Linked DNA regions of Homo sapiens. The protein of the gene in region 2 interacts with the protein of the main gene of each other region in a biochemical or structural test. Each region holds a gene or a part of one and is shown on either strand. Other genes may lie near its edges.

Region 1 (7,025 bases), on a different chromosome or scaffold from region 2:
TGTTGTCAACACATAGAAGCACTATAAAATAAATCCCACATTGTCATAGACTATCAAAATTACTTCCTTAGGGACCACTTTAGTAAAACCCCAGAAACAAAATATTCTTCAACTGAGGTATTTTATAATTCTTTCCCCGAACTCTGCGTATTTTGAATTTTTATACTTTCATTGACTTGTTTTTCCTTGTTTAATGTACAGCTTCTCCACAGAGGATTTGTAGGGCAGAGTAGTTTCACAACTCCTCGGCATGATACTATAGCGGTGGATAACATCATTACACATTTGTCCAAATCCACAGAATCTGCAACACTACGAGTGAACCGGGATGTAACTACAGACTTTAGGTGACAATGATGTGTCCATATAAGTTCATCAATTGCAACAAAGATACCAAATTCTGCTGGGTGATAATGGAGGAGTCTGTGCACCTGTGGGGCAGGGGGTACCTGGGAAATCTCTGCAAAATTTTGCTCAGTTTTGCTGTGAACCTCAAACTGATCTTAAAAAAAAACCCTCTCTTTCTAAAAAATGTACAGCTTCTCCGTTGTTAACTTATTCCGATATGGGAGTCTACAAATAAAATCTGAATAAAAATCAAAATTAAGTAAAAACTTTTAGTCCTTAATTTTGTAGTTTACAAAACTCAGTCTTTGGACTATTTAAATGTAATTCATAGATTCAAAAGGAGGGAGGGAAAATAACTGGTCTCAGAGAATAAGCAAGGCTAATATTATAAGAAATCTCCTGGCCTAATCAGCTCTTACCAATGATATGGTTCACTCATGCTCTGCTGAGACACAAATCAGAATTTTTTTTCCAGCCCATGTTCACGTACAGGAAACCAACAGGACTGTAAACACAGCAACAACAATCAACAAACGCAGACGTTCTGGACGGTGAAAGGGCAAGCGGCAGGAGAGTGATAATAAGGCCCGTGGCGGATATCGGAGGTCAGGGTGGAGCGGGCTCCGGGGCTCTGCCTCCGAGGGGCACTGTTTTCTGCGCCCTGTGAATCCACTCCACTCCACTTCCCCCCGTGGCCAGCTGAGCTCTTTGGTGATATGAAAACAATCTGAACATATAATCGGCACTGTGTGGCAAGGACATTTTAGGCCTAGGACAATCCTGACCTGGCCAGCAGGAGGATCAGTCATCAAGGGCGTATGCCTATAAATCTGAAAGTCAGGAAGGCTCTCCCACTTGGAACCAGAACCTCATCCTGCAAAAATGTTTGAAGGAGATTCTTCGACCCAGTCATCTGGGACTGTGCTTGAGATAACGAGACCGTGGGGACCCATCAAGGAATTAACTGATGTAATTTAGATATCATCTCTATTATGGTCCCAATCTCCTTAATAATGGAGATGGGAAGGGCAGGAAGAGAATCAGTGGATATCAGTGGAACAATGCCACTCAGAGCAACGTGGTTTTCAACTCAATTTCGGAGCAGAAAACAATTCTTTGGAGTCAACAGTCCTTTGGACATTTATAGATATACATAGCATTTTCTTTTCTAAAAGTAGAGTTCTTGGAGAAGATGCTATCCACTAAGAGAAAACCCCAACAATTCCAGATTTGGGTTTCCTCGGCTCTTCCAGGGTTGTGCTCTTGCCTGCTTTTGTAATTTCTCCTTCATTATCCACTCCAGCCTGGCCAACAGCCCTATTGCTCTGATGCACTAGGATCTCTGTGTGTTTTCATGGATTGTCCCTCAATCTTAAGAGGTAACAGCAGTAAAGAGAAAATGGTGGTGAAAACATCTAACAAATTTAACTGCGAACAAACAGATTAGATGATATGCGAGAACTTTTCAAGCTCTAAATTCTATGATCTATGGCGAACATACATTCACCAGTTATCCCAAACTCATTTAACCAATAAACCCCAAATGGGTTTTCTGTTGCTGGGGCATACGTGTCCCCAGAAAAACCATGTTAGGGATGGTAGCTGTGTTCCCAGCCTGGCTTCAGACCCTTAACTTTATGCATAGGGTGCTGAAATACTACATATTCACATTGGAAAAAAAGTATAGACAACAAAATCTTCAAAACACTAGTGACTGAACACAAAATCTGATAAATTTCAGTGACCCACAATGTGTTACTGATTTCTAATGCTTGTAGTAAAAGGTGAACAGGGGGAATGCAGGTTCTGAGAATTTCTGGTACTCTCGAAACTTCAGAGGTTAATGGCACTGAAAAATTAGAGTTAACTCTAATTTTCACCGAAGTGGTGATGGCTTTCCTTCCCCTTCATACAACTATCACCACTTTCATATATTCCAGGAGAGACTAGTGCCGTTTTCCGACTCACACGTTTCCAGTGGGTAAAAGCTGGATCAGAGATGGGAGTGAGGGTGTTGAAGAGAAGGTAAGGGTATGATCAGAAAAGAAAGTGTATTTGAATAAAGTTAACTCCGCTGTCGTGATGAAAACAGGGAAATAAGAACAACATAATGCACTGGTTCCTTGCGGGGAACACAAGAGAAGATGCCAGCTATGCCCTATATCTGCCCCCCAGGTGACACCCTGCGGCTGGAGCAGCCCAGCTGCTGGGCACATGGCTGGGTTATGCTGTGGCCTAGGGAGGGGGGGACAGGATGGTTAATGTGTAACAGCTGTTTACGTGAATGGGGCCTTGGTAAATTGTCTATTCCTATCTTAGGGAGTTTCTGCGGTGATTTCTACTCCTTTTACTCATATATTTATGAAAACTAGTGAAAAACAAAATTGTCTAATTAAAATATTGTCTACTTTTCTTCCCACTACTGGAAGCACCAAAGATGGCAAAATGACTAAAATTCTGAACAGAAGAGGAAGAAAAATAGAATAAAGATCGAAGTAGAAAAATTAAAACTGTAACGACGTTGTGCTAAGTTAAACAATAGTCATTCCTGGCCGGACGCAGTGGCGTGAGCCTGTAATCCCAGCACTTTGGGTGGCCAAGGCAGGCAGATCACTTGATGTCAGGAGTTTGAGACTAGCCTGGCCAACATGGTGAAACCCCAGCTCCACTAAAAATACAAAAAAAAAATATTAGCCAGGTGTGGTGGCGGAGACCTGTAATCCCAGCTACTCTGGAGGCTGACACAGGAGAATTGATTGAACCCAGGAGACGGAGAGGTTGCAGTGAGCCGAGATCTCGCCACTGCACTCCAGCCTGGGTGACAGAAAAAGATACTGTCTTAAAAAAAAAAAAAAATCATTCCCTAGAATAGTTCATTTTTGATATAAGATGGGAAGCAGAAAGTGAAGGATTGGTTTGTGAAAAAGTTACAGAAAGCTGCTTCATGATGCAAGACATTGTACCCTCTTCATTTTCCTTGTCTAACTCACCTTCGTAAATAGGAGTGAGGCAAAGACAGCAGAGCTGCTATCTTTTAGTTTGCTACGTTTGATATACTACGTTTGATATACTACATTTGATAGCCAGTATTTAGCCAGTATTCATAGTCAAGTAAAATATCAATTTGAAATCCAACATATAAAGTAGTTACTCTCTGAAGACACAGAGAGGCAACAAATTATATGCTAAAGCAAGCACTGAGCATTGTTTTTGTATTTAAACAGATTCTTATCCCAGGGAAGCCCTCCTCCAAGCTGATCAGAGGTAAGCTCTCAAATAGAGGAACTAACCATGATTCAGCACATTTAAAAAGGATTTATACCCATTCTTAGAAGGACACCCAGAGGAAACACCATCTGAGGTCTGAACAATAGTATCTGCTTGCCCTTTGATCTTAGTTTAAGAACACTTTGTACAACTTTTTTTTGTTGAAATGCCACTGAATTTCAAATTTACTCTTTGTAATCTCTTTAGAAGAACATCTACTGCTTCTTTGAATCACACTCTTGCAACCAAATTCTCCAAACTGTTTTTGCTGTGAGTAGCTTGCAGGCATGGATTTATTTTCTGCTAACAAAAATCTTCTTAAGTACAGGTAGCTTAAATGAAAAACAGTACTACTGATGCTATGTTTAGGAGAAAGAGATAGCGCATTATATCTAGTTACAAATACAAGTAGGGAGTATTCCATTTTTCTTCTTATTTATGTTTCCCAAGAGTAATTTTGTTCAGAAAATTGCCAGTATTTTTAGCACAAGTTTCTTGCTGCTTGTACTAATATATACTGATTCCCTTTTCTGAACACAATTTGAGTTTTTTAAATTGCCATTTAATCCTAGCATTTGGAGATAAATACCTCGTGAATTCAAATAAACAAGTGAAATCTGAAATGCAGATATTTAATTAAATGTTTTTACTACTCTCAAATGTAATGCATATTACAAATTAATATACATATGGGTGACTAATAAAAAAGGTGTATTAATAAAGCACGATGATTTACCTCAAATACTGTGAACCTCCCTGTCCTAAATGTCTTCACTGTAAACATTTTACTCAATAAAAATCAGGTATACCCTTTCTAAATAATCAAATCTTCCAAATCAGTGAAATATGAATTTGAAGCATGGGCTATGTCTATATGTTCACTAATTCAGCCTTTTCAAAGCATCTTCCATGTGGTCAGCATTATGTTAGGCACTTGGGCTACTGTGGTGGGTTAGCGTGGTTTCCGCCTTTGGAGGCTGACATCCTACAGGGGAGACAAACAAATGAGTAAGCAAATTTAACAAGAAAAAAGAAAAACTTGTGATAAGTACAAGGAAGGAAATAAGCAGAGTGCTGTCATGGTACAGAAGTGGGTGGGATGGAGGCATGACCAGTTTATATAGAGTGGCAGAGAAGGTCTCTCTTAGGTGAATTTTAAGCTAAGACCTGAAGGATACCTCTCCAAGGTCACCAAATTGGCAGGGATGCTGACTAGGCTGCCAAGACATTTTTAGCATTAGAAAACAAATAGAAAATGGCATCTGTGGCCCTGAGTGAATGCAAGTTCACGAGCTCGCTCACCCAGGCACTCTGCACACCAGCAGCCCAGGCAGCAGACGGTTAGCATTTAGAAGGTGACACATCCCAGCCTATTCACCCAGAAAGAGTTTGAAACAGTCAACATAAACAACAATGAGCTGGTTGGATGACCAGCACTTGCGCTATGAGAGAGAAATTTATCCTGTTGATTCACACTTCCTGATAGTCCGGCTGGCTTACAAGGCTCGGGGTGTTTCAAATGTATTTCATGAGTAAATTATTCCCCCAGTCCCAGGGAAGTCGGATGTTTACAACTATGTAATACTTTCCCTTGTACTTCCAGTGTGTAATTTACTTAACCTAGTAGGTATAAGCGTACTTTAAAACGCAGCGCTGTCATGTTTATCTTTCTGTAGATTCTTTAATAGATGAGTCAGGTAATGTGGCAGTTAACATGGCATTGACAGCAATTAGGAAATCTGTAATTCTCTAGTATCCCTATATAGAGAATCCAACATTGGTACGCAATAACTTTGTTCAAATGAACTGTCCTTCCTATGTTCAGAGTCATGGCAATCAGATTTTACCCCATTCTAGCCTCTGATGATGAAATACCCCTTTCCTATTGCTACATGGATTAAGATGAAATAGAATTGCTTCATTGGCAGGTGGCATGGCTTGCTGCTTGGATTCTACTTACCCGCAAAAGGTTTTCTCTTCACACTATCAGTATAGAGTCCAGAAGTGGACCTACAGTAGCTATAACTTGTACAAGGAGCCCAGTGATAGGAATATGAGGGGCTTGGGATAGAATTCCCATCCTAGAATTCTCTTTCAGTTCTGTGTCAGCCTGTCTTGGGGCCTGGAATTGCACTACTGGGTGAGTTCTCTTAAAAATTTTTAGGGGATTTTTTTAGATCTTTCAAAATCCTTTACGAAAAATGTCAATATCCCTAGGGAGATACTATGTTAAACCATCACCCTAGCAAGGATTAGCTGACAGCCAGCTTTAAGCAGTGTGACTCAGAGGCAGTGTGTCCCTGTAGCCCACGAAAAGTCAGAGAAGCAAGGAATAAGGGGAATTTGGAGGGTCACTAAATACAGTAAATATGACTATACTTTACAAATTCGCCTTAGGCCCAGCTCTTGAAATTTCAAATACCATCTAAGGCAGTGGTTTCCAAACACTGACATCACCTGAGATCTTGACAAAACAATGACACTGCTGGGCATGGTGGCACACTTCTATCTTCCCAGCAACTCAGGAGGCTGAGGCAGGGGGATTGCTTGAGGCCAGGAGTTTTGAGTCCAGCCTGGGCAACGTTGGGAGATCCTCTTTATTTTTGAACAAAAAAATACTGCTACCTGGTTTCCACCTCCACACATTCTGATTTGATATGGAGTGCCACCTGGGCATCTGGGTTTTTTTAAGGCGTTCCCCCCTACCTCCCACGTAACACCCACGTGATTCTAATGTGTAGCAATGTTTGAAAGCTTTGCTCTTCATCTCTTACTGGGACAATGTATCCATTTCCTTCAGACATTGGGATCTCCTGTGCCAGTGTTTCCTGACCACGGTAGCATATTAGAAAAACCTAAGGTACTTAAAAAAAATGATGCCTGTGCCCCACCCTCAAAAGATTCTGACCTAACTGATCTGGGCCCACGAAGCGGCCCTAATAACCCTAGAACTCTAAGTCCCCCGGGTGATACTACAGGGCAGCTAATGCTGAGAACCTCGGTTCAAGCCCAGGAATTGTTTTCCCAGGGACTGTAACACGATTCTCTGTGAAGTAGCCAGGAGCGCCAGTCTTCCTCCCCTTTGTCCAGGTTAGGACTACCCCCAAGAGGCAATAAAACATTTCCCCAGAGCTGCCAGGAAACCTGGAGGCGGGGTGGGGGCGGGGGGTGAGGGTGGAAGGAGAGGAGAGGAAGAGAGCAAGGGGAGGAATTTACTAAGTCAGAAGCAGCAGAAAAGTTAGAATAAGGAACAGCGCTGGTCCTCTGCCACCCTGGCCCCCACCCACTACAAATTTTATTGACTGGCATGAGAATTTCCTTAGAATGCTTCCTGGAGGTGGCTCAACCTTGGATTTGGTTCCAATAAATTGTGAAAATTCTTGTCCAATCAGAACCCCGGGCAGTGCAAG
Region 2 (7,703 bases):
TCCTGTTCTCAGTGAAATGTTTGCTTTCATTTACTTCCTGGACTTGAATATTTTCCATTTCTAACATCTCCAAGGCCCAGAACTATAATAGGTCTCTGAATTTGGGGGGCCCTAGAAACCTGGCTCAGGCTAGGGTGGAGAGAGGACTGTCGCCTCTTTTCCTCTCCAGGTGCTGCCCTTCTTTTCATTGTATTCCTCAAATCAGTAAAAATCAAGAAGGTGAAAGGGTTCTGTGACCAGTCATGGTAAGGGTTCTGTGACCAGTCATGGTAAGGTATGGGGAGGGGGTTACCAGGGACTTTTAGGACTCTGGAAGTTTCTAAAGGACTAGCAAGGGGCCAAGCCTCTGATAGAATTTGTCGTCAGGGTGGGCTCTAAATGAGCTGCCCATCCTGGTTTGGGTCCCCCTACCCAAAGGAAAGGAACACCAGAGAACATCTCTTGGTTTAACAAGAGACCGAGACTTGTTTATTTTCCTCAATAGAAGTTCAGACCATAAAATGTCAAATAGACTTGAAATACATCTCTATCTGAAAGGCAGCAGGACTAGCCAGGTTCCCGAGGAAATAAATATCAAAGAGGCCAAGGCAACTATCTCATCAGGAGTCTGCGATGCTTTTATAAGCAGAACTTTGGCTGCCAGGCTCTAGCAAGACAAGAGGTACAAGGAGAGCCTGCTAACTAAGCACCCCCCAAGGCAACTACGTAACTTCAAAGGGCAAAAGAAAGAGGAGAACCTCCGCTTACCACAGCCGGGTAGAAATGCCTGAGGAAAGCAGCGGAGCTGACCGTGCCAGCATTTACACAGGGAACACTTCTTGGGCAGCCAGGTGTCATGGGGCACAGACCCACAGTTCCTGAGAATGAACAGGTAAGGCGATAGCCTTGGGTCTGAAATTTCCACTTCCCTTTCTCTCTCCTCTCCACGGCTCCCCGCCCCTCTGAATTGCTTACTCTTTGCGCACATCGTGCTCACAGTTCCGTCCGTAGAAGGAGGGAGGGCAGGCACAAAAGGACCCCAGCATGCAGGTTCCCCCATTCAGGCAGCAGGTTCTGTTTAGCTCCTTACCTGAAAGGTAAGAACAGATGACTGAGGGTGTAGGGATGGAAAAGTGCAAGGGCAATTCCTGTAAGCGAAGGTTAATACAACACCAATGTGTTGTATCAGAGTAAGTCTCTGTGCCTTTGAGCAGAGAAGTCATTTTCATGCATAGGCCAGTGGTGGTTCTGGGTTCCCCAGTGTGAAGTGGACTCAGGGGAGGAAAACTGCACTCTAGGGAAGTAAAATACACAATCCTTGTCTCACTTCCAAAACCAAAAGCAGTCCAGCACCTGCACAGTTCCAGAACCAGGTGCCCTTTTAGGTGAAAGAGTGTTGGAAAGATACTCAGGAGACACATGAAGGGCCAGGGCAGAAGCATCGAAGTCAGGCAGTTCTTACTGTGCTGTATCCCCATGGGCGGCACACGCTGGGAAGACCGAGGCCGAATTGCAGGCTCCTCCTGGGGCCAAATGCTGTCATCTCTGAAGGCCAGGTATCCCCGAGATGGACGAGCAAATTCCTGATGGCCCAGCCCTTAACGACAAAATCAATTCATGGAGTCTGTATTTTAGGCCACATAAAAATTGAGAGTGATCAAAAGAACAAAAGGTCTCTCACCGGCAACTAATCCCAGTTCAAAGACTTTAGAAATGGCCATGATCCAAATCACACTAGGAAGAGGAAGTCAGACATGAGTTAGCCAAACAAAGGAAATAAAACCTTACAAGTTAACACCCAGGTCCTCTCATCACAAGGACAAGACCACAGATCACTGAAAAGAAATTGTAGAGCACCATCTTTCTTTTTTTAATGGCTAATTCATGTAACAAAGAAAAATGTTGAAAAAAAGTCACCAATATCCAAGTCTTTTTAATATATATTATTATTTCTTAGGCCCTGTCCTCACATAAGTACCTAATTTTAAGTAGGTATATGTCTTTTATCTTCTATTTCACATGTTTTCCCCTGCATACAATTTTCATATAAGGATTAAAAAATAGCTGCATCCCATGTTACCGATGAATCATTTTACAAACTACTGTATTTATTTATTTATTTTTGAGAGGGAGTTTCGGTTTTTCACCCAGGCTGGAGTGCAATGGTGCGATCTCGGCTCACTGCCTCCCCTCCCCAGTTCAAGCAATTCTCCTGCCTCAGCCTCCAGAGTAGCTGGGATTACAGGTGCCCGCCACCATGCTTGGCTAATTTTTGTATTTTTAATAGAGACGGGGTTTTGCCATGTTGGCCAGGCTGGTCTCCTGACCTCAGGTGATCCACCCGCCTCTGCCTCCCAAAGTGCTAGGATTACAGGCGTGAGCCACCGCACCCGGCCAAACTATTTTAACCAATCACTTAAAAGGTTTTTAGGTAAAAAATGTGGGTTTTTTTTTTTTTTTTTGCTATTATCTTAATAGTTTTGCCAAGTATTGAATCTGCTTATACCTTTAATCTTTTCGGAAGATTTTAAATTTGGTTGTAGTACTGACCTTTATTTGTACAAGAATAAAGAAACACTATTTCATAGGCAGAGTCATTAACATAAAATGAAAATTAACATTAACACGAAAATGTTAAAAGCCAATGGCAAAGTTAGAAGTAACCATGTGAAATTCCAGGTCTTTCAGGAAAAACAGCAGTGCGGTTGGCAGCTCTTTTAAGGCTTGAGCAAGAGAAAAATCAAATGACAGGTGTAGAACATTACTTCCTAAGCTGGCAATCTCTAGCAATCAAAAAAAGTTCACATTCAAGATTAGCTCATACCTGTAAGAGAAGCGGGCCATCTTCCTGCAGTCCATAGCTTTTAACAATTAGGGGGAAAAGAGGCGTTAGCATCGCTTTAATTCAGAGTCATTGCCAAAACAGCCAAAGGAAAACATTCATCTCCTAAAGCGAAAATGGCAATTTAAGAAGAAAATGAGAAATTCGTTTTCCCCAGAAGGTCGTAGCAGAAGCAGGAGCAAGGCGTCCAGGGGAAACTGGAGGGCTTTCGGCCTTGGACGTTTTGACCTTGAGCTGGAGACTCAGCCTTTCCGGGGATTCTCCTTCTTCAACAACAAACCCCAGTCGGGGCGGGGAGACCTTTCAGGTGGGCGGGACGCCCACCAGCATGACAATGGCCCACACGCGGGAAGAGGAGTCTTGTAAAACTGTGGTTAACTAGCCCTAATATCTCTATCATTAGTTGCAGGCTAAAATGATCAGAGGTACTCTTTTGGGAAAAAAAAAGAAAAAAGAAAAATCAGTTTCTCTAATCAAGTTGGTGATTCCAGGTTGGAGGGGTGGTGGAAAGTAATTGCTTTAATTAGGAAAACCTGAAAATGTATGGGTCTCAAGGCATTCGATATTTTATTTTATTTCAGGAAGTTTTACTTCCTGAAATTTGCTTCCACCTTTGTTTTTCCAGAAGGGTGTTTTGAGCCCCGTACTCCCCCTGGGGGATACCCGGGTGGCCAAGAAAGGGGTGCTCTCCGCCTGAGGAGCTAGGTGTGTGTGTGTGGGGAAGACTAGGAAGCTTGAAACTGAGATAGAAGTTCAGGGTCAGGAGGGGTTCCTTGGGGGCTCCAGACTTGAAGTGCAAATTCCAGGCGGACGTGAATTCCTGAAAGGACGCGGGAGCCGGCGCCAGGTGCCCGGGAGAGGGGAGGGGCGGCCAGAGGCGCAGCAGCTGGGACTCTCCAGTGGGAGTGCCGGCCTGTTCCAGGAAAAAGTTCTAGAACCACGGCAGTCCGGCATGGGAGGCCATTTCAGCCCCCAATCACGGGAATTTATCTCAGCCTCCCAGCTCCCACAGGGCGGCCTCTTCCAGCCCCTCGCCGTCCTGGCCCCACGACACCGAGAATTACCCCCGGACTCTGATGTGCCGCTTGCAGGGGTAAACGTGTTTATTGAGTGGTTCCACTAAGTGCCAGACGCCCCAGATGGAGAGGCGCGTCTATGAGCCGGAGTCGCCTCACCTAACATTTCAATCCTCCGGGTTATTTCATGTGTTATTAAATACGCCCAAAGTCGTTAATAGTTTCTAAATCGCATTTAATTCCAATTTCTAAAGGAAAGCCTGACGGTTACTTAATGTTGCCAGGCACACAAATGCGAAACTTTTATTAGATAGTTGTTTCCATCCATCTCTGTTTATTGGATTTAGGCCTCGGCAGAAAGAATTGGTAGCATCTGAGGCCATTTCAGCGTCAGTGCCTACCTGTGTGAATGCCATGGATCCACAGGTGCTGGGAAGAGGTGTTATTTACTTCTACACATGATTTTTTTTTTTTTTTTTTTTTTTTTTTTGCGACAGAGTCTCCCTCTGTTACCCGGGCTGGAGTGCAATGGCACGATCTTGGCTCACTGCAACCTCCACCTCCTGGGTTCAAGTGATTCTCCTGCCTCATTCTCCTGCCTCAACCTCCTGAGTAGCTGGGATTACAGGCGCCCGCCACAACGCCCGGCTAATTTTTGTATTTTCAGTAGAGACAGGGTTTCACCATGTTGGTCAGTCTGGTCTCAAATTCCTGACCTCATGATCCACCCGCCTCGGCCTCCCAAAGTGCTGGGATTACAGGCATGAGCTACCGCGCCCGGCCTTACACATGATCTTGGGAGAAGCAAACGTAAAATAATTTGTATTGGGGGAGTGAGGCCCCATCCAGTCAATGGTGGGATGCAGCAACATTTCCAACTCCACAGCAGTTGACTATTTCATTCCTGCTGCGCTTCGCCTCCTCCCTGTGTGGCCTTTTCAGGTGAAATGCTTCAGGTAGCATGCTGAGATTCACAGGGGACAGGGGAACATGGCCTGAAGCTCTAGGAGGCCGGAGGTGGGGGAGGGCTCCGCAAAGGAGAAGGCTAGCCCTGGAGCTGCAAGGAGGTTTAAAGATGTTACTCAGTGTGGTACATTTGTAAGGTAGCTTGTGCACCACAGTCCTCACCAGTCCAAGGTGCTAAGTAGATAAGTAGCGCCCACAATATTAGTCTCACTTTATGGACAAGACAACTAGTTCTATTGGGGGATTTGGATGTCTTGTCTTTAGAGACTGGGCAGGCCTGTGGCAGAACTGGCAAAAGAACACACCCCTGCGTTGCTATTTCCTTATCTAAAGCTCTTGTGGAATTTTTAGAGCTTAAATAGGACCCCTGGAAATCACTGCATTTTCAGAGGAAGTAACTGAGGTCTCCAGTCTGGCGATGTTGTCATTGACGGGACCAGAACCCCAGGATGCCAGCTTTTCAGCCACACAAAATCCCTTCTCTAAGGACCAGAACCCCCTGAAGAGATTCCCATTCCCCATAGGTACTGACTGCAGAGGAAGCCAAGTGGATCCAGGGTATTCAGAGCCTGGGCCAGGTTTTGGGATGGGGGGTGGGGAGAAGGGGAAGGGAAGGGCTGTGGTGTTTAAGAGAGGTTAGATATTTGCCGTTGGGCTGGAGATGTAAGGGCTATTTAACAGGTATTTGATGTCTACTACTGGGCGGCCTGTAGACTGGAGTTTGGCGCTGGAGAAACAGTTGTGAGAAGTAACCCCACTGTGAGGCTGGAGAGAAAGAACAGTAATTGTTGATTCTAATTGTACTAACTGCAAAAAGTTGTTGCTGCCTCCAGGTGGGGGAATTGAATGGCTACCCTAGGATGGCCACTGGTCACCTCTGCTTGGTCACTGTTGAAACTGGGCTGCTGGCCAGCCTCCAGGCCAATGAGTGCTTTGTGTCAAAAGGTCAGGCCTAGGATTGGGAAGTGCTGTGCAACGGGGGTTCCCCAATCACAGGCAGCCCATCTCATCCCTTACAAAAGGCACTGAGAGCAGAAAATGAAAAACAATGCTCTTGGTGTTGGCCATTTCTTGGTACTGCCCTTGAGACATTGTGTATTAAAAACTGGGGCAGAATTGTGTTTAAAAATCACACAAATAAGCATTTGACTTAAAACCATCCAAACAAGAATGGTGGAATGAAATACATCATAATCAAAGGACAGACTTCCTGTGTCTGCCTAAAATTCAAGGAAGAAAATAAACTTGGAGAATGGGATCAATTTTAGCTATCAAAAGCCAATTCGACCTTGTTTAAATAGTTGAGAACACGTAGAACTAAATTCCAACCAAAGAGTTAACAAAAGAATGCCATGTCTGCACTACAATGACAGTATTTCAAGGTAAAAGCCTTCTTTTATCATAGGGCACTTAGGTCTTACCTCTGTCATTGTTCCCTTGAACATCCAGGCAGGCCAGAAGATAAGAGAGAGCAGAGGGGGCGGGGGAGTTCTGTATATGTATGTACCCTCCAGCTGAGGAATGCTGGGGCCTCTAATTTCATCAAGCTTAGCTTCTGTTAACACCTGAGCTACACTCCTGCGGAAGCATTATCCACCCAATGTGTCCTGGCCACACTTCATTAACAAGTTAATGGCTTTCTGTTTTCACTGGCAAACTTACAAATTGCAACTGGAAACTTACTCTGTATTTGCCAAAGGTCTCTGTGTGGGACATAAAAGGACAGATTCCTGCATTCAAAAATCTGCAATTTCAGTGGGGAAGACATGCTCAAGCAAGTCATTTTAGAGCCATATTGTTACATAAATGGCGTAAGAGGAATGGAGAAGGGCTTAAGAGAGGACTTCATTTTTTTTCCGTGCGCCATGGGGGCCGTATCATATTTCTTCCTATGTAGACATAGTATACATTATTTTATCAATGAATAGACATGACATGTTTCCACGTTTTGTGGTGAACTTCCTTGTACATATATCTTGGTGAACGCTTGAGAGCATATTCCTCTTGTAAATTTCTAGCACTGGAATTGCTTGGTTAAAGGGTGGATGCTTCCAAATTATTTTCGAAGAAGCCTGCACCAATCTCCTCTCCGCCCCTCCTCCCTCCCCCTTGAGTTGGTATTGAGAGCTTATCTCCCAAGTACTTACCAGGTCTGGCTGCAGCAAGCATCTTAAATTTTGTTAATACAGTATGTGAAAAGTAGTATTTCATTGTTGCTTGGTTATTGGGTGTTTGTATTTCATTTTCTATGACCTGGCTGGTCCTTCTTACAGAGCACTTGGACTGGCTTCTTTGAGACTCAGCCCAAATTTCATTTGCTCTGGGAAGTCCTTGCTGAGACCATCCTCCCTACTCCAGCTTCCAGCTGTTCTGAGAGCCCTGTCCTGGCAACCACCGTCCCCAGATTTTATCTTGTCTTCACTGCATATATATATATATATATATATATATATATATTTTTTTTTTTTTTTTTTTTTTAGATGGAGTTTCACTCTTTCTGCCCAGGCTGGAGTGCAATGGCGCGATCTCAGCTCACCGCAACCTCCACCTCCCAGGTTCAAGCGATTCTCCTGCCTCAGTCCCCTGAGTAGCTGGGATTACAGGCATGAGCCACCACACCTGGCTAATTTTGTGTTTTTAGTAGAGACGGGGTTTTACCATGTTGGCCAGGCTGGTTTCAAACTCCCAACCTCAGGCAATCTGCCTGCCTCAGCCTCCCAAAGTGCTGGGATTACAGGCATGAGTCACCTTGCTCGGTCTCACTGTATTGTAAACTGCTTTGTGTGTGTGTGTGTGTGTGTGTGTGTGTGTGTGTGTTTGTCTTTCACCAACTCTTCCCCCTATCCTTTATTCCCTTGGACTAAGAGGTCCAGAAATCTGGTCTTCCAGAAACCTTAGCT
Region 3 (7,329 bases), on a different chromosome or scaffold from region 2:
CAAGAATAGAGAGCAGAAGAGTTACAATATCATAAAGCAGAATCAACAGATGTTGGCTACAGACAAGATATGATGAAATGGGAAAAGGTTTGGGTTTGGTATGACATCAACAAAAATAAAGAACACCAAAGAGGCAAGTTTGCTAAGGAAAAGCAGCTCAGAACAATCAGGTACAGATATGTAGAAAGCAACTGAATAAAAAAGAAAAAACAAAACAAACAAACAAAAAAACGTGATTCAGAAGACACATAAACAAAGAATTGAGAATTATTCCAACAGAAAGGTCTGAACAATCATTCTAAGGGACTAGAGACATAGAGAAAAGTGATCTGAAAAGTGAAACTTGGAGAACGCATATTAAAGAGGAAAGAAGAAACAGAAGGCAGAAAAGTGGCGGAGAGGAACAAAGTCAGTATAATGTCACAAAAGGCCCCTCTTCATCTAGTTAATAGTTAACTCTTGCTCATCCTTCACAATCTGCCTGGGTTCCAACAAAGCAATTTTAAGGTATCTTTCCCAGATTCTCCCACCACCACAAGCACCAGATCAGGTCTCCATTTGAAGTTCTTATAATATTCTGCACCTTAATTAAAATCACAATTATATTTAACTAGAGACTTTATTTTTCAATAAGTATTTCCCCACTAGACTTTAAGCTCCATGAGGGAAGGATCTGTTGTATCTTACTGCCTTGGACCCTGTGTTAGAATACAGCGAGTATAGATGAATGAAACCCAAGGAGAGGCATCTGAAAATGTGAAGTCGATGTTAAATCTTACAGAAAACTCAAGGAGAGGACTTAGAAAAAGGTAGTTAAATGTGTTGATTAGGTTATAGTTCCTTGTGAAGGTGAAATCCAGATAACAAGGGGTTAAGAAATGAGTGGCTAGCCACCAACCAGGCAAAGGCAGGAAAAGCAGACTACACTTGGCAATCTCTAGAGATGGATTGTGAATGACTAAATTTTAATTTCAATGTTGCGCTAGTTCGCAATTAACAACCATGTGTTACTTTTATTACGAACAAGCTTTTTAAAATGTTAATAAGATTTGAAAAGGAAAAGCAGCAACAAGACAGCTTGAAGGAGTAGCAGACTTAAGAAAAGGTTTTTGTAAACTGAAAAAATCTTAAGAACATTTGTACTTTAAAGAACCCAAATACGACAGAGAAAATAACTCACGCTCCACTAAGCAGGAAAATTAGAAGGAAAGGAAAAAAACCCCAAGGTGTTAACTAATAAGAAAGACAAAAAAAAAAAAAAAAATTCTCCCTCTTTGACGGAAGGTTAAGAAGCCAGTAACAGAAGGAATTTAATGAAGGAGCTCCTGCTAAGTGCCTCAACCTCTTCTGTAAAGGGTGGGGAGAAGTGAAGAAAGTAGAAAAAGTTTAAAGTGGGCTCCACGGAAAATGGAGGAAAAATTAAACAAGAACTGAGTCTGGTTCTACTAAAAACGCATTCTACATTTCAATCGGCCTTTCATACACTCACCCCATTCCTAGATCAGAGAATTGCCCATATTTTAGCTTCAAATTTAAAAATCTAAATAATTCTGGTTCACATTCTTTATTTCAACAACTGAAAACAATGAGACGCATTAAGTTACACTCTAATTCAAAGTTTAACTCCTCTCACAAGTAAATACAATAAAGTAGTTGTTTTCAACTCCAGCAACAAAATAGCGATAATTTCAAGTAAGAGTAACTGAAAAATGTTCCTAAACGTAAAAGTGTTTGCAAACAGTTTTGGTTTTTTTTCTTCCTAATTCGTTTGCCAGAATACGATGTTCCTGGGTTCAAATCCCAGCTCCCTTAGACAAGTTAGTTAACCTCTTTGCGACTCGGTTTCTTCCCCTAAAACAATGAGGAATACAATAAACCAGAATCGTTGTAAGGATTAAATGACGTAACACAGGTGCCAAGTTCATACTATGTACTCTGAACAGTTTGTTAACCGCTTAAAAGAGAAAACCTGCAGGAGTTTGACCAAATTAAAACATCTGAGAGCATGAAAGAGTACCACGCTCAAACGCCAGACCCTAACACACAGCATATTATTTTTCTTCCCTGACGCAAGCTCATTTTTTTTTCCTTGCCAAATCTTTCCACTAGGAGTCTGGAAAGAGAAAAAAGGGTCCAGGCAATCCAGCAGAAAGTTTTCCAAAACTGAAGTACGGAATCACCAGGCCACGGAGCGGAGGCCGCGCAGGACAACAGGTGAAGCAGCTCCGGGAGCTCGGGGGCCAGGGCCCCTTCCCGCGGGGACTCGGGGGCGGGCCGGCTGCTCCTCTCACTCGACCCCCGCCCGAAACTCATTTTGTTCTCCCCTGTTCCTCCCCACAGCGTCCGGAGCCAAATCACAAATATCAGCCTCGCCGCTCCGGGGCGGGGAGGTGAGCGCCTTTCCCATTTAAGGATTCCAGAAGCGTCCCCGGAGCGACTTTCGCCCACTCCGCATCCCCAAACTCGGCCTGCAACCCGCGAGTGGGAGACAAAAGAGGGGCCGGCGGGGGACGCGGCGCGGGGTGCCGTGGGTCTCTGGCTGGGCGGTCCCGGCCCAGCGCGCGCCGAGGCCTGCGGAGCTGCCGGGGCCGGGCCGGGCAGCCCCTGGCTCCGGCCACCGCGCGCCCAGCTGCCTCTGCAGCCTCGCCCGAGCCCCTCTGGCCTCCCCGCTGCGGCCAGCCCCTCCGGTCCGCACGCGCACTCCCAACTCACCCGGACCCCAGGGAACGCATCCTCCAGCCCTCGGCGCGGAGCGGGTGGGCGCGGCGAGCCGCCGGGGCGAAGTGGGGCCCGAATCGGCCTTCGCCCTTGGCGTGCAGCGGCCCCGACCCGGTCGCCCCTCGATCGGGCCGTGCGATCTTCGCCGCGCGCGGACGGACGCGCCGAGCCTAAGCCTTCCTGCCCGCCCTTGGCCCTCCTCCCTCCTCGCTCCTGCCTCCTCCCTTCTCCTTCGCCAAGCCCGGCAGGCGGATTCCAATCTCTGCAGCGGCCGCCGCCACCGCCGCCGACTCTTGCCAGGAGGGGAGGGGGCGGCGCGGGTGCGGGGGCCTGGGGGAGGGGCGGGCGTCCGCGGGCCTTGCACGGCGCGCGCGCACTGGGAAGGCCCCCGCCCGCGCCGCGCGCACCCGACCACGGGCGCCTGCCCCGCCCCGCCCCGGACACGAAAAGAGCCGAGCGCACGGCGGAAGCGCCCGAAGAGTTCGCGGAGCCCGGCGCCCAGTTGCCGGGGAGGAGGGCCAGCCGCCGGCAAGGGGGCGCCGAGCTGCTGGTGCGGGCGGGAGTCGGGGCTGCTCCTCCGCGCGGGCCCGCCGGCCCCTCCCCACAAGCCAGCCCCACAGCTGCCGCCCGGGTAGCTTCCCGCAGACGCCGTAGGTAGCACGCGATGGAACGCGGCGGAGGGGAGCGTGGACACGGCTGCCGGGCGCTGCGGCCATCGGCGCCCTGGACGCCCGCTCCGGCCTTCGGGGCCGGATATCCCCACTCTCGCGGGCTCTTTCGCGTGGACCCCTCCTCCGGCCGACACTCACACTGCGGTGAACGCCAGTCAGCTGGCGTGAAATAAGGTCGCTGGGAAGGCACCAAGTCACCAAGGTGGGGGATGGCCAGGTCGTGGTAGTTGCGACAAAGAAAAATATAAGTCACATTGCATTTGTTTCTCGCCCACCCACCGCTCCCGGCGTCTCTTCCCGGGCTCCTTGCCAGCGTGCCGAGGCGCAGGCAGGGTGATGGAGGCTCCCCGGCCGGGAGGATCTGCCGGGGAGAGCGGCTTCCCTCATCGATTCGGGAGCGCCAGGCCCGGCGCGCCCGGGCTCCTGTGACCTGCGAGCCCGCGAATTCCAGCGGCATAAGATAAGGAGCGGCGAGGGCCCAACAGGACTGAGGTCAGCCAGCTATAAATACGCCTCCAGCTCCACCGCGGGCTCACGCTGGTGACCTCGTGTACCCTCCGGAGGCTCATTCCGTCCATTTGGAAAATGCAAATAATTGTCACCACCTCTTTTCTTCCATTTCCCCTCATTCATGGTGGAAAATGCTTTTAAAAGTATTCGATGACCCGTATGTGAGGAAAGAGGAGATAGGCCCCTTTTTCACCAAATGTGACTTTAACCTCCTTAGTAATCCAAGAAATGTATCAAGTTTAAGTCACTTAACAAAAGATGTTCTTTTAAAGGTGCATTTTAAAAAATCACTTTTAAAACTGGGTAAACTGGGTAAAAAGAAAGGGGGAAGGAAAACAATGTGCCAGGCATTTGTATTGACACACATTCTTGCCTGAAGAGGTGTTTAGATTCCAGGGTATTCCCTTATATTCTGGTATAAATGTTTGAATTCCCGTGTATTTTGTTTCAATTTTTTGGTTTATCTTTTATTCTGTCTCCCTTTTCTTCTTTTACCCGCCTTTGCCCTTAATGCTGCAGATAGCCTCTGTCATTCTGAATTATTTTTCAATTCTGTTTTCTTCCCTAATCTTTTTTTCTGGGCTCTTCAGCTGTCTCAGGTTTGACAGTCATGGGTTGTAGTATCTTGCTATGCAGGAAGAAGAGGATACGTGAGATTACTTGCATCAACTAAAATTGGTCACTTTTCTTTCTCAAGTTTCCTTCATAATACCCAGTTTTAGTTTTTTTGTTTTTTGGGGTTTTTTTGTTCTTTTTTTTTTGAGACGGAGTCTCGCTCTGTCGCCCAGGCTGAAGTGCAGTGGCGCCATCTCGGCTCACTGCAAGCTCCGCCTCCTGGGTTCACGCCATTCTCCTGCCTCAGCCTCCTGAGCAGCTGGGACTACAGGCGCCCGCCACCACGCCCGGCTAACTTTTTGTATTTTTAGTACAGACGGGGTGTCACCGTGTTAATAGGTGTTCTCGATCTCCTGACCTCGTGATCCTCCCGCCTCGGCCTCCCAAAGTGCTGGGATTACAAGCGTGAGCCACTGCGCCCAGCCCCAGCTTTAGTTCTAAAGGAAAAGATGGGCCTTTTGCTTAAGGAGATTCACATTGATTGGTCAAAGCTCTCATTGACGTATGCTGAGCAATGTGTCGGCAGAGAAAACCATGGCAAGCGTGTTATTATGCTCTTTATAGTCTAGTTGGATTTTTAGACATATGAATTGGTCTATAAAATAGACAACAATCTCAGGTGGGAACCTTAGTACATCAAGTTTCTGAAATGTACAAATGAGTATTCCCTGGCTTGTGTTATCTGCCACTGTAGAAATGAGAGCAAAATTGAAGCATCAAATTTTAAGTCGTGATATGTTTGCTTCTCTGCAAAAGACTCTCCTTTTCAAATCTTCAGGAATTTTTCGCTCTCCTTTGATAAGGCCCAGCTAGTACCCAGGCTTCAATCCTCAGCGCCCTGGCTACCAGCAGCTAGTGGGGCATGCTGTTCTCCCTGGCTACTGGCATGTTTATGCATGCCAGCCCGTTTCTCCGGTCTGTCTGCCCAGGGAGACATCTGGACACGTGTGTTCTGGCCCCCAAACTCAAAAGCAACATCTCGGGATCCACAGTTAACATTCCGTAATGTGTTGGTATTCCTTTAAGTGGGTTACTAGAATAGGCTGGAAATGGTCTTTTCTTCTGTCCAGGTAGGTCACAAGAGAGGTAGTTGTTACATGCCCAAAGCAGCATTCATTAATTACATCGTGCATTTAGTTATTTGTTTGTGGTCTGAGCCCCTCTGCTCCACTAGAATATAAACTCCATGAGCAAAAGACTTTGTCAGTCTCTCTTTTTTTAGAGACAGGTTCTCACTTTGTCACCCAGGCTGGAGTGCAGCGGCATAGTCATAGTTCACTGTAACCTGGAACTCCTGGGCTCACGTGATCCTCCCCCCTCAGCCGCCCAAGTAGCTGGGACTACAGGCCAGCTTGACTTTGTCAATCTATTCTCAACTCTCTCCTCAGAGCCTAGTGCCTGGCAAGTGAATATTTGTTAAATGAGAGAAGAGAAATAAGCATACATATCCTCTAGGCATTTCTAAACCTTGTCACCAAGACCCTTTTAGTGTTAGAGGGTGGCATGGCTATCTTGGAAAGAGTGAAGGTTGGCTGGGAAAGCTGTGGATCACATCCTCTTCAGTGAAATGGGACTTCTGCCTTCAGGGATCCAAGGTGAATAGATTAATCCAAGCTAATCCATTCAAAGTCATTTTCATGTTGTAAAGATCTTATAAGGCAAAAGGCAGCACGAAGTCTCTGGGTCTGATGATAAGTTAGAGGCCAGTAAGGAGGCACGAGTGAAGGAATGCCATTGGTAGGGTGACCCTTTAGGTTGGCTTCAAACCCAATATTAAATGGGTAGGTGTTAGGGAGAATAAACAGCTTCATTTTTCAGCATGGACACTACTACATCTTTTTTTTTTTTTTTTTTTTTTTTGGTTAGTAGTACCCCATCATGGCTTAGAAGGACTAAACTGAAACAGAAACTGTGGTTAAGAATAAGATGGATGTATATAATTCAGTGCACAAAATAGAGGAAGTTTAAAAACCTGAATTCATTTTCATTGTGGTGGTACAGTGTTTTACTTCTTTTGTTTACTTCTAAACAACTTGCTCCTTCTCCCTTAGCTCCATTTTAATTTATCTTTGCCTCAAAGCACTGGCTACTATGATTGAAAGATAGATGATGGAGGATATTGCTGCTCTCACTTGGTCCTACCTAGTCCGTGGCCTCTGTATTCCTCCTTTCCCTACTATCCGTACACCCTTTACCATAGAACCTGATCTTTCCTAGGCCTTGAGGCAGGAAGAATTATCAGAGCTTTGGTCCCAAGCTCAAGACTCAGCCTCCCACTGCCTCGCCCCTTTCTAAGAACTGACAGCCCTTCTCTTGTGTCTGAAACCCTGACCTGTTAGCTTGCCAGGACCTGGAATTTCTCTGCTTGTTGTTTGGACTTAGCTGCATCCCTGCACCCAGACTGCTGGGCAGTTGTAGGTATTGTTGGTGGCATCACTTAATTGCCTCCAGCTCTTTGTTTCTAGGCTCCCTGTATCTGTATTCTATCTATCTGTTGGGCCTCCCTTCCCCCATTACCTCAGGCTGGATGTCCCCATCCCCACTGCGCTCCTGGACTACCACCTGTTGTTTGCTCACTACTCTCTGGCTATCAGGCACTGCCTAGAGGACTATGGTTCCTCCCACCGAGCACCGGGAGCTGGGGCCTCCCTACCCCAACTCCCACGCAGCCCACAGTAGATCTTGGCCTTCCCTGTCCTGCTGCAGCTCACTGCCCTGCTTTTCCCTATCCTCACAGCACCTGGTTTATTGCACTTGGATTATTTTTTAACCAGATGAAAACTATATATAATATATATGCTCTGGACATACACTA
Region 4 (7,025 bases), on a different chromosome or scaffold from region 2:
ATTAGCCAGGCATGGTGGCGCATGCCTGTAGTCCCAGTTACTCAGGAGGCTGAGGCAGGAGAATCACTTGAACTGGAAGGCTGGGGTTGTGGTAAGCCAAGATTGCACCACTGCACTCCAGCCTGGCCAACAGAGCGAGACTCAGTCTCAAAAAAAAAAGAAATAGGCAGATAAAGTAAACAGATGTGATATGTGATAAGGCAAATAAAGAGTAATCCTCTCGGCACCCTGTTAGTTTCTGTCCGAGCACGTATGACAATCTGTAATTATGTTGTTCATTTGACTACTTACTTTATGACTATAAGCTTCAGAAAGGCATAATCATATCTGTCTTCATGTTTAATAATGTATCCCAAGCACTTACCATAGTGTCTAGCATGTAGTTCAATATTGATTTGTTAAGTGAATGAATACCTATTTCACCCTCTTTAATTTAGGGTGAGTAAAGTGAAATCTTAATGGCTGTCAAAGGTCAAAGAAGAGTCAGTAGGAAAGTAGGAATTTGAATGACAGACTCTTAAGTTTTAGTCCAAAATATTATACCACATTCAAAATATTGATCTCAAAGTACAGTCATTGAATAGCTTTGTGTTTTCAAAGCTTAAAGTAGCTGGTACCTAAAAAACAGACTTGAGAATCTTTCAAAACTTTACTTCTACTAAAAAGTTTTAAAACACTTAAAAAGTTTAAGAGAAGTTGTCCAAGAAAAAAAGATATTTTAAATTCCCACTAATAAATAGAGACGATTTAGTCCATTGTTTCTTTTTAATGCATGCTAAAACAGTGAGACCTTAAAGAACTCTTTGTAAGGAACCACGATATCTGAATATTCTAGATATTTATTGGCAGCTATCTGGCTCTCTATAATGATATGTTCTTTGGCTGTATCATTTAGTCAGAGTATTATTTCACATTAACTGACTGATAAGTAACCTGCAAATGTAAATATCCCCCAAGAACCAAATCTATATTTTTTAATGTTTTACATACCATATCCTTTTAAATGGGACTTAAAGATAGATTAAAAACTAATATGTAAGATCTACTCTGGACCAGCTACCATGTTATGTGGAGTTATCAATTCATTTAATACATCTTGGTTTACAAATTTTAAAAGTTAATCTCAGAGTTTTAGAAATGTGCCAAGATCTCATAACTTGTCCATGCCCCTTCCTCTTGAAATAATGCCTTGGAGCAAGCTTGATATATCACATATAGTTATGAAGATGGGAAGAACAATAAACTTTTCCTTTAAAATAAAAATTTTAAAGTTAATAATCATAACTACGAAAACTCCTCCCTCTAAGCTTTATAAATAGGCTTACTTTTATTACAATATGTAAAGACTTGATTCATTTTTAAAATCTTTTGAAAGGCAACCCCTCCCCACATGTGTAGCCAGTCCTTCTAATGTAGTAACTCTCTTCTTGCTTTACATTTATTTTCTTTAGCAATATTAGAGAATAAAGTAATTCCCAGTGTGACTACAGCCAACCAAAGAAAAAACTAGTCCAAAAGAATGGTCACTGAAAAGTTTAGGTTTCAAGCGTGAATACCATATACCAAATTCAGAAAAGCATCTAAATCTACTTCCTTAGAACAGTGTATTTTACTGTAGGGTCTCATACAGATTTCAAAGAATATAATCTGGATGACCAGTATGAGTAATTACTGAAATTTGACCATCATTTAAACATAAACAACATATTGAGCCACTAATGTTTAGAATTCTTTAACTAGACTTCACAATGAAGACATATCCATCATACAGTGTCTGCCTCTTTAAGAGAATATTACGTTATCATGTTTTATTATGTACTCTTATTTTTCCAAATACATGTCTTTATTTCTATTCATGCTTATCATCTAAAACTATATCTATCTGTAAACTTTTTTAGTTATGAAGGCACTTTCAATTTTCCTCTGGCTCATTACTTCCTTACCAATTTTATTTAGTAGTGCTACCATTCTACCTTAGTCTTCGAGTTGCTTTTCAGTCCTATATCCACATATGGGGTATTTGGGACATACATCAGGATATGTATCATCCACTCTTACCTCCTCAGTTTTAATTACTTTTCATTTGAATTTAAGGGTTAACCCCCTGAGATTGTCCTACTTCTTCAAGCAATTGTGAACTCTCTTCATCACACAAATCTCTTCCTCAGATTTAGTCAAAATTTCTCCATCCCACCTTGCCTTCATCCATGGTCAAGTTTACTCTCAAATGGCTATTGTGTTCCTGATGCTATTTTGTGTCTTTTCCTTCATATTAACATCCTTCCTAATCTCCGTCTAAGACTTTTTTTCCAGTACTAAGTCCAGCAAGTCTTTCCTAAATTAAAAAATCCCAACTCCCCAAAATTACAATCTAATGTTGTTTCAGCGCCTTCGTGTGTGCTTAATTTATTCGACTAGTCCAAAAGAGAGAAGACCTTAATCAGGGAAGAGCCATGTTCTCCCTTGAGACCAGTTTTCCCTATATTCTATACCTAGGCACACAGTCTCTATTGTAGATTAATTAATGACCATATTTTTCAGTGCATATATTTTTCATTGCACACATTTACATATGAAGCTTCCTTTTCCACTAAGAGAGTACTGAATACAGGAAATAAGGATTGTTGAACTAGGTCACTGGTTTTAGGGATTTACAATCCATTAGTTGGTCAATGAATCAATTAATGGGTCACGATCAATGTTTTTTAAATGAAATGTAATATAAAAATACATAAGTGTCCTGCACATAGTTAAGAGTACACAGTTCATGAAACTTTCATTTCTGATGCACACAGACATATATACATACACCCCTACTACTACATGGGAACTAAGTCATAATGCAATGTGTAATTCCTATTGTGTATTACAGTCAAAAAAGTATGAAAGCCATGGAACATGAGGATACCTAAGATCCCCTCTAAATCTATATAATTCAAATTCTAATTTTAATTATTTAAAAAAATTTAAATTTGAACATAACTTAAAGATATCAAAACAATGAGCAAAATCATCTTTTCTTAATAAAATGTCACCACTGAACTCTAACCTTAAAATTATAGAACCATAAAGCTTTCAGAGTAGGAAAAAAAATCAGGGATCATCTAATCCAAGTTCACCACTTCAATACATTAAGAGGACAACCGTGGCTCAGAGAAGTGAAATAATTTCATTTCATTCATTTAATAAACATTTGCTGAGCACCTATTGTGTACCAGGTTCCAGGAATGGGTGTGTGGATAAAGGAAAGATGTCTTCAAAGAGTAGAAACAGGAAAGTAAACATTTGCACAGTCTAAAGTGGAAACAGGCAAGTAAACATTTGCAATTATTACTGAAATCAAGGTCATTTACAAGGTGTTAGATGAACAGAAAGCAACTAACTCAATCTGGGTTGAGTGACAGAGAAAATGTTTCTAAAGAGGTGATACTTCTCAGTCTTAAAACCAAAAAGGGGTTAGCCAGGTAGAAGAGGAAGAGTAATATGTACAAAGGCACCATACTGATATACAATAAAGGATTACACATTTAAGAAACTGCAAGTCAAGTCTGTATGGATGGAATATAGTACTCAGGCTGAGGAGAAGCTGCAGCAGAATAACTAGCATTTAATATTCAAACCACTCTCTGAGGTAGGCACTATTAATATCCCCCCATTGTGTAGATGAGAAAACTGAGGCACACAAAGGTGAAGTAACTTGACCAAGGTTAAGTTATGAAACCAAGATTTAAACCAATTAGGTCTATATCCAGAGTCTATACTCTTAACCAATACCAAGAGGTTAGAAAAAATAGGCAGGAACCAAACGATGAAGGACCTTTTATGACATTCTAAGACTTTAGATTCTATGCTAAAGGTGACTCACAGTCAGTGAAAGGTTTTAAGCAAGGGTAACATATTCAGATTTATTTTTTAATAAGATCACTCCAGCAGCTATGCAGATGGACTAGAAAGAAAAGGAAGTAGTGATAGGGAACTGGTGAATCTTAGCTAGAAAAGTGCTACAATAATCAAGTAACAGAAAATGATACATAAGCTAGATACTGGCAGCACTGACACCACAGCTCAAGTCTACCAACCTCTACGACCACATTCTTGATCACTATCCATATGAAGTTTCCAATTCTTTCCCTTAGGTCCACCACTCTAACAGTTCAAAAAATCCAATCTCAGAGACAAAAACATATTTCCTTTAAGTCCCTTTATTAAAACAAAGCCTGACCTCTAGATGCACTGGGTATACAAAAGTGACTAACAAGAAATCTAGGTGGAGAATGACAGAAAGTCACTTGCTATCTACAGTAGTTTTCTTACCTTCTTGATTTCTCCTCCTCCTCCTCCTTCCTCTATACACTATTCCTGGAATTTTCATGTTCAATAGTCAATTTGAAATCAATGTTCTGTCTAGACATGACTATTTTACAATCTAACAGAATTAAATCTACCACAGAGGAAGTCTAATGTGGTCCTATCAGCAGCAATAAATATACTCTTGGTTCTAGTCAAATTTTGGCTTAAACAGAGATGATAAATGAATAATAAGATGAGCGAAACTTTTTCTGAAGCAGCAAAGAGTTAAGGAAAACCTGAATATTAAAAAAGAGAATAAGAGCAATCTAAAGTTCAAGCCATTTGATTCTAAGAGAGTAACACTATTCCCAAGAGGGTGTGCGAGGTAGTCCAGAAACCAGTAAATGAAAAAACAGTGGAAAAGACTATCTGGTCAATTCTCAAGCATTCTAAATTCAATCTGTTTTCATTAAAACTACGGGTAAGCCCTCTGGAGTCACCCATGATGCTAAGCCACAACTGGGTTCCACAAGCAAGCAGTATAAGGAAGTACAGAAGGGTCAGGGGAAGAAAAGGGAGTAGACAAAGAAGGGAGGAAAATGGAAAGGGAACAATAATGAAAGGGAATGGAAAAAACAATGAGTTACAGAGCAGTGAGCAAAAAGCTAAGGCATACCAGTGACCCCTAGTATCAAATGTTGCCAACCTTACCTATAATCTGAGACAACATGGCAACTGGCAACTTAACAGACCATGAAAACACAAATTTAAATCATTGGACTCATGAAATATCAAAGATGAGAAAATCATAGTAGCACTTTAAAAAGTCAAAATGCAACAAAATAAAGTCTTGGAATCTAAAGAAACAATTTAGAGATTACTAAAATCTCATTTGGTTTAGTTGTGCTTCTCTTAAGAACAGTGAGTCTGGTGGACCCAAAAGGCGAAAATGTCAGTATCAGAGAGAAGGGTATGGAGAGGTGTGTTACAAAGACACTGTGAGGCTCATTTGGACACCATTTGTGGGAATGACTTCAGAATTTTCCTCTCTATGGTATAATGCTCCTTAATTTGCTAAGAGTTTCACTGTAATTCTTATCTTGGTTGGCTAGGTTAACTCCCTTAAAACCAGAGTTCAAAACAAGGTAAGCATTTTATTAATTATGGTCAAGATTTAGCCTTAAAAAGGGAAACGATCTGCAATAGATCATAAAATATTACTTACTGTATCATGAATTAGTCTAACGGTAACCAAAACCCAGCTAGTGATTCTCAAGATAATTATGTAATTAAGAGATTAGGTTAAAAGTTTCTTGAAATTAAAGTTAGCTAGACAAAAGAAATATCTTTTTTAAAAAAACAGAATTTCTACCTTGAAACTATTCAGGGAACATGTAATAGTGAACATATTTCAGGCAACATGTTACACACACACACGAATACCGCCATAAGGCAGCCCAATGATGTCAGTAAAAATAAAGGCAAATATCCTTAAAGATCATATCATGGCAAAGAAAATCCTGGATCTAAAGCAAATATAATTAAACTTGATACCTTAACCAATCATTCATTATGTCCAGGAACATGCAGTCTTCATGAGCACTCTATCAAAATCGGTGATAGGAGAGTTTATCCATAAGTCATTGGAATATTTTATTATAGTATAAAATATTATACTATACTGGTGAATTCTCAAGCATTTCATCAAGGATGAAAGAATGTGCGTATCTATAGTCTGTTTCTCTAATTTAATCATATTCTAATTTAAAAGATAATGAAAAGATAAAAATCTTTCAATACAACGTTACCTGGAGATCATCAATACCATGTACTTGTAAAATTTAGATTACTAACTTTAGGGGGAAGAGAGCAGAGCCCTTTTACTAATAAACTACTGCTTTTAAAATTTAAGAGTTTAGAACTGAGTTTTTCCTTTTTTTTTAATTTGTATTTTAGGTTTGGGGGTACATGTGAAGGTCTGTTACATGGGTAAACTCGTATAATGGGGTTTGCTGTGCAGATTACTTCATTACCCAGGTATTAAGTCCAGTACCCAATAGTTATCTTTTCTGCTCATCTACCTCCTCCCACCCTCCATCCTTGAGTAGACCCCAGTGTCTGCTGTTCTGTTCTTTGTTTTCATGTTTTCTCATCATTTTGCTCCTACTTATAGGAACATGTGGTATTTGGTTTTCTTAGAACAGGGTTTTTTGACCTCTACACTACTGACATATTGAGCCAGCTAACTCTTTGTTGTGGAAGGCTGTACCATGTATTTTAGGACGATTAGAAGCATCCCTGCCCTCTACCCAACTAGATGCCAGTAGCACACCCCGTCCCCTGTTGTGACAACCAAAAATGTCTCCAAATGTCCCATGGATGGGGATCTGGGGAAGTAGGGAGGGGGACTCACCCCAGCTTGAGAACTGTTGGCTTAGATCATAAACAGGAAAAAAAAATAGAAAATGAATGGAGGGAGAATTTTGTTTCATTTTGTTTCTAGTCTCCATGTTTCAATGTATTATATTTGAATTTGACCACAGACACCATTTATAAGAGATTCTGCCTTTTAGAAAACAAAGTATTTATCATCCATCACTTGTTAATCAAAGTTCAAAAGAATCCCAAAAGATTCTCTGTAATGCTAACTCCCCCTCCAACCACACATACATTCACACATACACAGTACTGCCTAGCTGAACTGAAGAAAACATAATTACCATATTTCCATTTCC

The links.
Region 1: the proteins of CRIPTO (region 2) and BMP6 form a complex in vitro, tested with the Homo sapiens proteins (one study listed by BioGRID).
Region 3: the proteins of CRIPTO (region 2) and BMPR1A form a complex in vitro, tested with the Homo sapiens proteins (one study listed by BioGRID).
Region 4: the proteins of CRIPTO (region 2) and ACVR2A form a complex in vitro, tested with the Homo sapiens proteins (one study listed by BioGRID).

What each region holds. Positions count from the first base shown.
Region 1 is NC_000006.12:7,729,079-7,736,103, reverse strand, and holds part of BMP6 (bone morphogenetic protein 6 preproprotein), read right to left. Parts: intron 1-7,025. UniProt on the Homo sapiens protein: Growth factor of the TGF-beta superfamily that plays essential roles in many developmental processes including cartilage and bone formation.
Region 2 is NC_000003.12:46,573,105-46,580,807, reverse strand, and holds the start of CRIPTO (protein Cripto isoform 1 precursor), read right to left. Parts: upstream 3,021-7,703; 5' UTR 2,839-3,020; coding exon 2,804-2,838; intron 1,714-2,803; coding exon 1,661-1,713; intron 1,577-1,660; coding exon 1,442-1,576; intron 1,070-1,441; coding exon 955-1,069; intron 858-954; coding exon 748-857; intron 1-747. UniProt on the Homo sapiens protein: GPI-anchored cell membrane protein involved in Nodal signaling. Cell-associated CRIPTO acts as a Nodal coreceptor in cis. Shedding of CRIPTO by TMEM8A modulates Nodal signaling by allowing soluble CRIPTO to act as a Nodal coreceptor on other cells.
Region 3 is NC_000010.11:86,752,303-86,759,631, reverse strand, and holds the start of BMPR1A (bone morphogenetic protein receptor type-1A isoform 3 precursor), read right to left. Parts: upstream 3,014-7,329; 5' UTR 2,713-3,013; intron 1-2,712. UniProt on the Homo sapiens protein: On ligand binding, forms a receptor complex consisting of two type II and two type I transmembrane serine/threonine kinases.
Region 4 is NC_000002.12:147,848,024-147,855,048, reverse strand, and holds part of ACVR2A (activin receptor type-2A isoform 1 precursor), read right to left. Parts: intron 1-7,025. UniProt on the Homo sapiens protein: On ligand binding, forms a receptor complex consisting of two type II and two type I transmembrane serine/threonine kinases.